Homo sapiens: one gene and its partner. The protein of the gene in region 1 purifies or fractionates together with the protein of each later gene. This does not show direct contact. Each region holds a gene or a part of one and is shown in the gene's direction. Other genes may lie near its edges.

The links.
Region 2: the proteins of NAT2 (region 1) and STARD7 purify together in Homo sapiens (affinity purification with mass spectrometry; 3 studies listed by BioGRID and IntAct, with this or other methods). This does not show direct contact.

The regions. Positions count from the first base shown.
Region 1 is NC_000008.11:18,393,995-18,397,822, forward strand, and holds part of NAT2 (arylamine N-acetyltransferase 2), read left to right. Parts: intron 1-3,828. UniProt on the Homo sapiens protein: Catalyzes the N- or O-acetylation of various arylamine and heterocyclic amine substrates. Participates in the detoxification of a plethora of hydrazine and arylamine drugs, and is able to bioactivate several known carcinogens.
Region 2 is NC_000002.12:96,195,273-96,199,100, reverse strand, and holds part of STARD7 (stAR-related lipid transfer protein 7, mitochondrial isoform 1 precursor), read left to right. Parts: intron 1-3,551; coding exon 3,552-3,760; intron 3,761-3,828. UniProt on the Homo sapiens protein: May play a protective role in mucosal tissues by preventing exaggerated allergic responses.

The DNA.
Region 1 (3,828 bases):
TGGCTGTTTATTTCACCTGGGTGCAGGCGGGCTGAGTCCTAAAAGAGAGTCAGTGAAGGGAGATAAGGGTGGGGCCATTTTATAGGATTTGGATAGATAAAAGAAAAGTACAGTCAAAGGGGGGTTGTTCTCTGGCAGGCAGAGTGGGGGTCACAAGGTGCTCAGTAGGGGAGCTATTGAGCCAGGATGAGCCAGGAGAAGGAATTTCACAAGACAGTGTCATCAGTTAAGGCAGGAACAGGCCATTTTCCCATCTTTTGTGGTGGAATGTCATCAGTAAGGCAGGAACCGGCCATCTGGATGTGTACATGCAGGTCACGGGATATGATGGCTTAGCTTAGGCTCAGAGGCCTGACACACAGTAGAACTGATTTATTTGCAAAATAAGTTTTGTTACTATACTTGGTCTGATTTTTTGCATAAAGGGCAGCAAGAATAATTATTTACTATATAGGCTCCTTTTTAAAAAATGGCTTTGCTGGAACATTCTTTTTTGTAAAGAATCTCATATTAGACCTCTTAAAAGCATCCTGAGCCCAACCAAGGATTTATCTGTTTCTACGAGATACCTGTATGAATTAAGTGAATTCTCTCTCAAGGTCCCAAAATAAGTTGGGGTTCCTGGGCCTGTCAGAATGTGACCTTCTTTTACCCATTACAGGCCAGAAACCTGTAAAGGAACCTGTAAAGGAACTGCATAGACAAGCTGTGAGGCCAGTTTTATCCACAGGGCTATTATCAGCTTTATAAAGTCCCAATATCAATTTCTTAAAAATAGGGCATTCCAGTCAAATCCTTGATTTTTGTCTCCACTTGTGGCCTGTTACAAAACAAAACAGATTCTAACTGAATTTATGCAAATAATTATATTCCCATAAATTAGCAATAATCACTAAGAGTTTCCAAATTTCAGAGAAATCAGGCAGATAGAGGGAAATATGCTTCAAATTTTGCTCACAAGAGTATACTTTACACAAATATTAAAAGCTGTAAATGTCTAAAAAGAAAAAAATTTTGACTCTGAAAAACAAAAGTGGCAATGTTTCAACAAAACCCATAAAAAGATTATTTCAGTCTTCTATTATTTCAGTCCATGCAATTAACTCCTATTCTGTTAGATATTGGGTGAGCAATCTTCATGAACATATTAGTTCTCCATGAGAGTCCTGGGAGTTTTTTTTCTCTATACCAGTGGCACAATCTCCAAAGTTATCATAAAGCTTCATTCAAAAGCACCCCTTAGAGTCCTATAGCTAATTGCAAACCACCTTTTTAAAAGCACCAAAGTAGAACAACTGTCAATGACAGAAGTCTTAGGACAGCCATGGTCAAGGACACACTTAACAAGGAAATTTGGTTATTTCTGTGGCATATAACAATTTAACATAATAATTATAAATACTAATAACATATATAAAGACATCAGAATGATAGGAATATCACGCAATGTTGAAAAACATACTAGTAACAGGTTTAATATAAATGTAGAACAAATAAAGTTGAACACCATTTCATATTTGACAATGTTTCCTATATGATTTTAACATGCCAAATACACCGAATATGTCTGTTTTTGGCTTCAGGGGACTTAATATCAAAAAAGATAATGAGGTCAACAAGACTGAATTTAGAATTTGATTTTGGAAAGTTTGATTTTCTTCAGTCCCCACTTTGAAACTTAAAACAAGTTTCATATATTAAAAGCCAAGGTAATAGCTTTGGAGAGATTTGGGTTACGGGTATTTAGATAGAGACAGATATTGTGGTGGAAAAACAAATTACAATCACCAAACAGGTCATTGTAAATAAGTCATTCATTTAGGCAAAGTGATAACTCAAAGATTTCAAAAAGTAAAAACCTTCACTCTTTGAGAGAGAGGACTCACTTTCACAAACAATAAGACCTAATAAAGACAGCATGAGGCCAACTAAATTTGTCTCTCTTCCCCAACCCATCTTTTTTTTTTTTTTTTTGCAGTTTTCTCAAAAGGTAAGCAAAAATCTTTCACTATCTCTTAATATTAAAAGAAAATCTTATTCAAAGGAAATCTAAATTTTACCATTGCATAGCTTATTATTAATGCTAAAGTTAGCATTAATAAAATCTTACAAACAAATCTATTTAATTAGTTGTAACACAAGGTAGAGATTTTTATAAATCTTTTACAACATTTTATAATTTTCCATAAAAGAGCAGATTAGTATTCTAATAAAACCCTGATATTTTGACATAAGGGCCTAGATTCTGGCCCTGAATTAGTATGCTTTTTATTTTAAGGTTTAATTTATGCAAAAACTAAATAATCCCTTTCAAATTTTAGCCAGCTGGCTTATATATAGAATTCCTTTTACAAGATCAATGATCAATCTTTCATAAACCTTTAGTTTTGTCCACATTTTTAACTTAAAACAATCTTTAAAATCTAAAAAATTTTTTTTTGTTCTTTTGAGACCGAATCTCACTCTGTCAGCCAGGCTGGAGTGCCTGCCTCCAGGGTTCAAGTGATTCTCCTGCCTCAGCCTCCTGAGTAGCTGGGATTACAGCTGTGCATGACCACACCCGCCTAATTTTTGTATTTTTAGTAGAGACGGGGTTTCACCACGTTGGTCAGGATGGTCTCGAACCCCTGACCTCGTGATCTGCCCACCTTGGCTTCCCAAAGTGCTGGGATGACAGGCATGAACCAATGCACCCAGCCTGTAATTTTTTAAATAAATAAGACTAGCTTAATATTCGTTTCATAAAAACAGCTAAATCCTGAGCTATCTGTAAAAAAATACGTTTAACATTAAGGTTTATACTTGGGTGAACACCTGATATTCACAGGCTATAAAATAGTTAGCAAGGAAATAACTTTAAATGTGACTAGTTTTGTCTAATGTCTCAGTTCTCAAAGCAATCTAGGTAAACTGCTAACAATGAATAAATTGAACAAATATAAGTGGGATGGATAAATGCTTGTTGGTTAACTTTTATGTAATTTAAAATCTTAAACTTATTTTGGATTAAAGAACAGCTACTCATTAATAGTTTGGCTCATTTCCAATTAAGTAGAGATATGGAGAAACATGCCTAAAAATTATAGAGTGATTTCATCTATAAAGTACTGATACCTGATATGCAGTTTAGGATTTCATGTTTCCTAGGTTTAAGGTCACTAAAAATAAAAATTCCACTTAATATATAATTCTGTTTATAAAGTCTGTCAAAGACATGTTTTTGATGAAAAAAGAAAATAATATAAGACAAATAGAAAAATGTATTCTCATTAAAAAGAAAATCACTTTTGTCTAATTCAAAGGTTATTTATGAAACAAAGTAAAAAGGAACCAGTAAATAGGGGAAAGAGATGTAAAGAAAGTTATAGATATAAAGATGTATTTGTGATAAGAGAGATTAAAAAGAAAAGAGAATTATTTTGTATGATAAATAATTTTATATTTTTTTCTGAAGTAAGATGACTGGTAATCTAAGAAAGAGGGAAATTTAGGATACAATGGAAAGTCCAATCATGTTGGAAGTGGCATGTGTATAATCAAATTCATAAAAGAAATTTTGTTTGTGGTTATGTTGGCTTTAATTAAAATTGAATTATTTATAGTCGTCTTTCTGGAAACTGAGCTTTGACCAAAAAAACCACAATACAAAACCAAAACATTGGTTAGAGCAATAAGGGTTTCTTAAAGTATTGATTTGCTCTTCATTAAATTCCAAGAAGTTTTAATGTTTAATGCTATTTTTTTCTTTTTGAAACTTCTCAGATATCTCAGAAGTTCAACTTCTGGTGTATCCTGCTGCTTTTAGCCTTTTCTTCATTTGAGAATAGC
Region 2 (3,828 bases), on another chromosome or scaffold:
CAATTTCAAAACTTATTACAAAGCTACAGTAATGACATTGTGGTACTGGCATAAGGATAGACATCTAGATTGTTAGAATAAAATTGAGAGTCTAGAAATAAACCTTTACATTTTTGGTCAGTTTTCAACAAGGATGCCAGGATAGTTCACTGGGGAAGGAATAGGCTTTTCGACAAATGACACTGGGTCACCTGGAGAAGCAGATGCAAAAGAATGAGTTTAGACTCCTACCTCATTATCATACACAAACATTAACTTGAAATGGGGTAAAGACCTAATGTAAGCTAAAATTCTAAAACTCTTAGAAGAAAATATAGGCATAAGTTCTTATGACCTTGGATTAGGCAGTGGTTTCTTGGCTATAACACCAAAAACAAGCAATCAAAGAAAAAATAAACATCAAAATTAAAAACTTTTATGCATGAAAGGATACTATCAAGACTAGTATAAGCACATGAAAAGGTTAGGGAAATACCAGTCAAGACGCAATGAGATACCATTTCACACCCACTAAGTTGGCTGGAATAACAAAGATGGACAATAACAAGTGGGGCAATTGGAACCAAGGATGTGGAGCAGTTAGAATCCTCAAACATTGCTGATGTGAATATAAAATAGTGTAATTGTTTGGAAAACATTTTGGCAGTTGCTTAAAAAGTTAAGCATAGTTACCATGATCCATCAAATCTGCTCCTAGGAATCTACCCAAGAGAATTGAAAACATGTCTATATGAAGATTTGTACACAAATGTCCATAGCAGTATTCTTTTTTTTTTTTTTGAGACAGTTTTGTCTTTTCGCCCAGGCTGGAGTGAAGTGGTGCAATCTTGGCTCACTGCAACCTCCACCTCCTGGGTTCAAGCAATTCTCCTGTCTCAGCCTCCCAAGTAGTTGGGATTCCAGGCTCCTGCCATCACACCTGGCTAATTTTTGTATTTTTAGTAGAAATGGGGTTTTGCCATGTTGGCCAGGCTGGGTCTCGAACTCAACCTCAGAGTGATCCACCCACCTTGGCCTCCCGAAGTGCTAGGATTATAGGCATGAGTCACTACGTCCGGCCAGCAGTATTATAATAGCAGTAATATAATATAGTGCTATTATAATAGCACTATAATAAAATAGTGGAAACAAATTTTATTTGATGAATGGATAAACAAAATGCGATCTATCCATACAATGGAATATTATTCAGCTATAAAAAGGAATAAAGTACAGCATGGTTGAACTTGAAAGTATGCTAAGTGAAAGAAGCTCAACACAAAAGCTACATATCATATGATTCCATTTACTTGAAATGTCCAGAATTGGCAACTCCATAGAGACAGAAAGTAGATTAGTGGCTGCCTAGGACTGGGAGGAGGCAGGAATGGGAAGTGACTAATGATAGATAGAGGTTTCTTTTGGGGGTGATAAAAATGTTCTGGAATTAGGGGTGATGGTTGCACAACCTTGTGAATATACTAACAAGTACAGAATTGTACACTGTAAAAGAATGAATCTTATGGTATGTGAATTTATCAATTTAAAAACAAAGGGGAAAAATACATACATACTTATAATAAGACAACCCAATAAAAAACGGACAAAAGATATCAATTGACATTTTAAAACCATAAACCTTCATAGTTAACATTTGAGGGCTACTTACGTGCCAGATAACAAACACTTTATTTTATTTTATTTTTTATTTATTTTAGAGATGGAGTCTCACTCTGTTGCCCAGGCTGGAGTGCAATGGTGCGATCTTGGCTCACTGCACCCTCAGCCTCCTGGGTTCAAGTGATTCTTCTGCCTCAGCCTCCCGAGTAGCTGGGATTACAGGCGTCCACCACCATGCCCAGCTAATTTTTGTATTTTTAGTAGAGATGGAGTTTCACCATGTTTCCCAGGCCGGTCTCGAACTCCTGACCTCAGGTGATCCGCCCACCTCGGCCTCCCAAAGTCTGGGATTACAGGCGTGAGCCGTTGTGCTTGGCTTTATTTTATTTTATTTTATTTTATTTTATTTTATTTTATTTTATTTTATTTTATTTTGAGACGGAGTTTCGCTCTTGTTGCCCAGGCTAGAGTGCAATGGCACGATCTTGGCTCCCTGCAACCTCCGCCTCCCGTGTTCAAGCGATTCTCTTGCCTCAGTCTCCCGAGTAGCTGGGATTACAGGTATGTGCCACCGTGCCCAGCTAATTTTGTATTTTTAGTAGAGACAGGGTTTCTCCACGTTGGTTAGGCTGGTCTCAAACTCCTGACCTCAGGTGATCGCCTGCCTCAGCCTCCCAAAGTATTGGGATTACAGGCGTGAGCCACTGCGCCTAGCCTATTTTATTTTTTAAGAGACAGTGTAGCTGGGCACGGTGGTTTACGCCTGTAATCCCAGAACTTTGGGAGGCCGAGGCGGGCAGATCATGAGGTCAGGAGATTGAGACCGTCCTGGGTAACACGGTGAAACCCTGTCTCTGCTAAAAATACAAAAAATCAGCCGGGCATGATAGCGCGTGCCTGTAGTCCCAGCTACTGGGGAGGCTGAGGCAGGAGAAATACTTGAACCCAGGAGGCGGAAGTTGCAGTGAGCCCAGATCATGGCACTCTATTCTAGCCTGGGTGACAGAGTGAGACTCTGTTTCAAAAAAACAAACAAAAAAAAGAGACAGAGTCTTACTGTATTGCCCAGACTGGAGTACAGTGGCAGAATTGTAGCTCACTACAGCCTCCAACTCCTGGGCTCAAGTGATGTTCCCATCTCAGCCTATAGCTTGGAGTACAGGCATGTGCCACTATGCCTGGCTAATTTTTTAAATTTTTTCTTAGAGGTAGGGTCTCACTGTGTTTCCCAGGTTAGTCTTGAACCTGGCCTCAAGGAGTCCTCCTGCCTTGGCCTCCCAAAGTGCTGGGACTACAGGAGTGAGCCTCTGTGCCTGGCCATAGATATTAAGCACTTGACACTTACTTTTTTTTCGTTGTTTTTTGTTTTTTGTTTTTTTTTTTTTTTTGAGACAAGAGTCTCACTCTGTCGCCCAGGCTAGAGTGCAGTGGCGTGATCTCGGCTTACTGCAACCTCTGCCTCCCAGGTTCAAGTCATTCTCCTGCCTCAGCCTCCTGAGTAGCTGGGATTACAGTTGCGCGCCACCATGCCCGGTTAATTTTTGTGTTTGTAGTAGAGACAGGGTTTCACCATGTTGATCAGGCTGGTTTTGAGCTCCTGACCTCGTGATCCACCCTCTTCTGCCTCCCAGTGTTGAGATTACAGTCGTGAGCCACCACGCCCTGCAGCACTTGACACTTTGTAATCTTTATAGCCAACCTCGAGATAGGTACTATTATTATTTCCATTTTATAGATTTAGAAATAGGAACTGGTTAAATAATAATCTAGTTAGTGAGTGTTGGACTAAGATTCAAACTCAGGAACTCAGTTTTTATTGACTATACTGTGTCCTGTTTATATACTACATACTGTGGTTTACTGTATAACCTTCTTGCACAGACCTTTGTGTGGACACTTCATTTCACAGGGCTGACTAACCACCTCACCATGGCTCTTTTTCCCCTTTACAGATCTATTAATGAGATGAAGCGGTTGGAAGAAATGTCAAATATGTTTCAGAGCTCTGGAGTCCAGCACCACCCTCCAGAACCAAAAGCCCAAACAGAAGGGAATGAAGATTCAGAGGGCAAAGAGCAACGTTGGGAAATGGTGATGGATAAGAAACACTTTAAGCTGTGGCGGCGCCCAATTACAGGCACCCACCTTTACCAGTACCGAGGTGAGCCCAGTGTGGCTATCTTTTGGGTTCCATAGTTGCACAGGTGCATGGGATTTCTGTTCTTCATA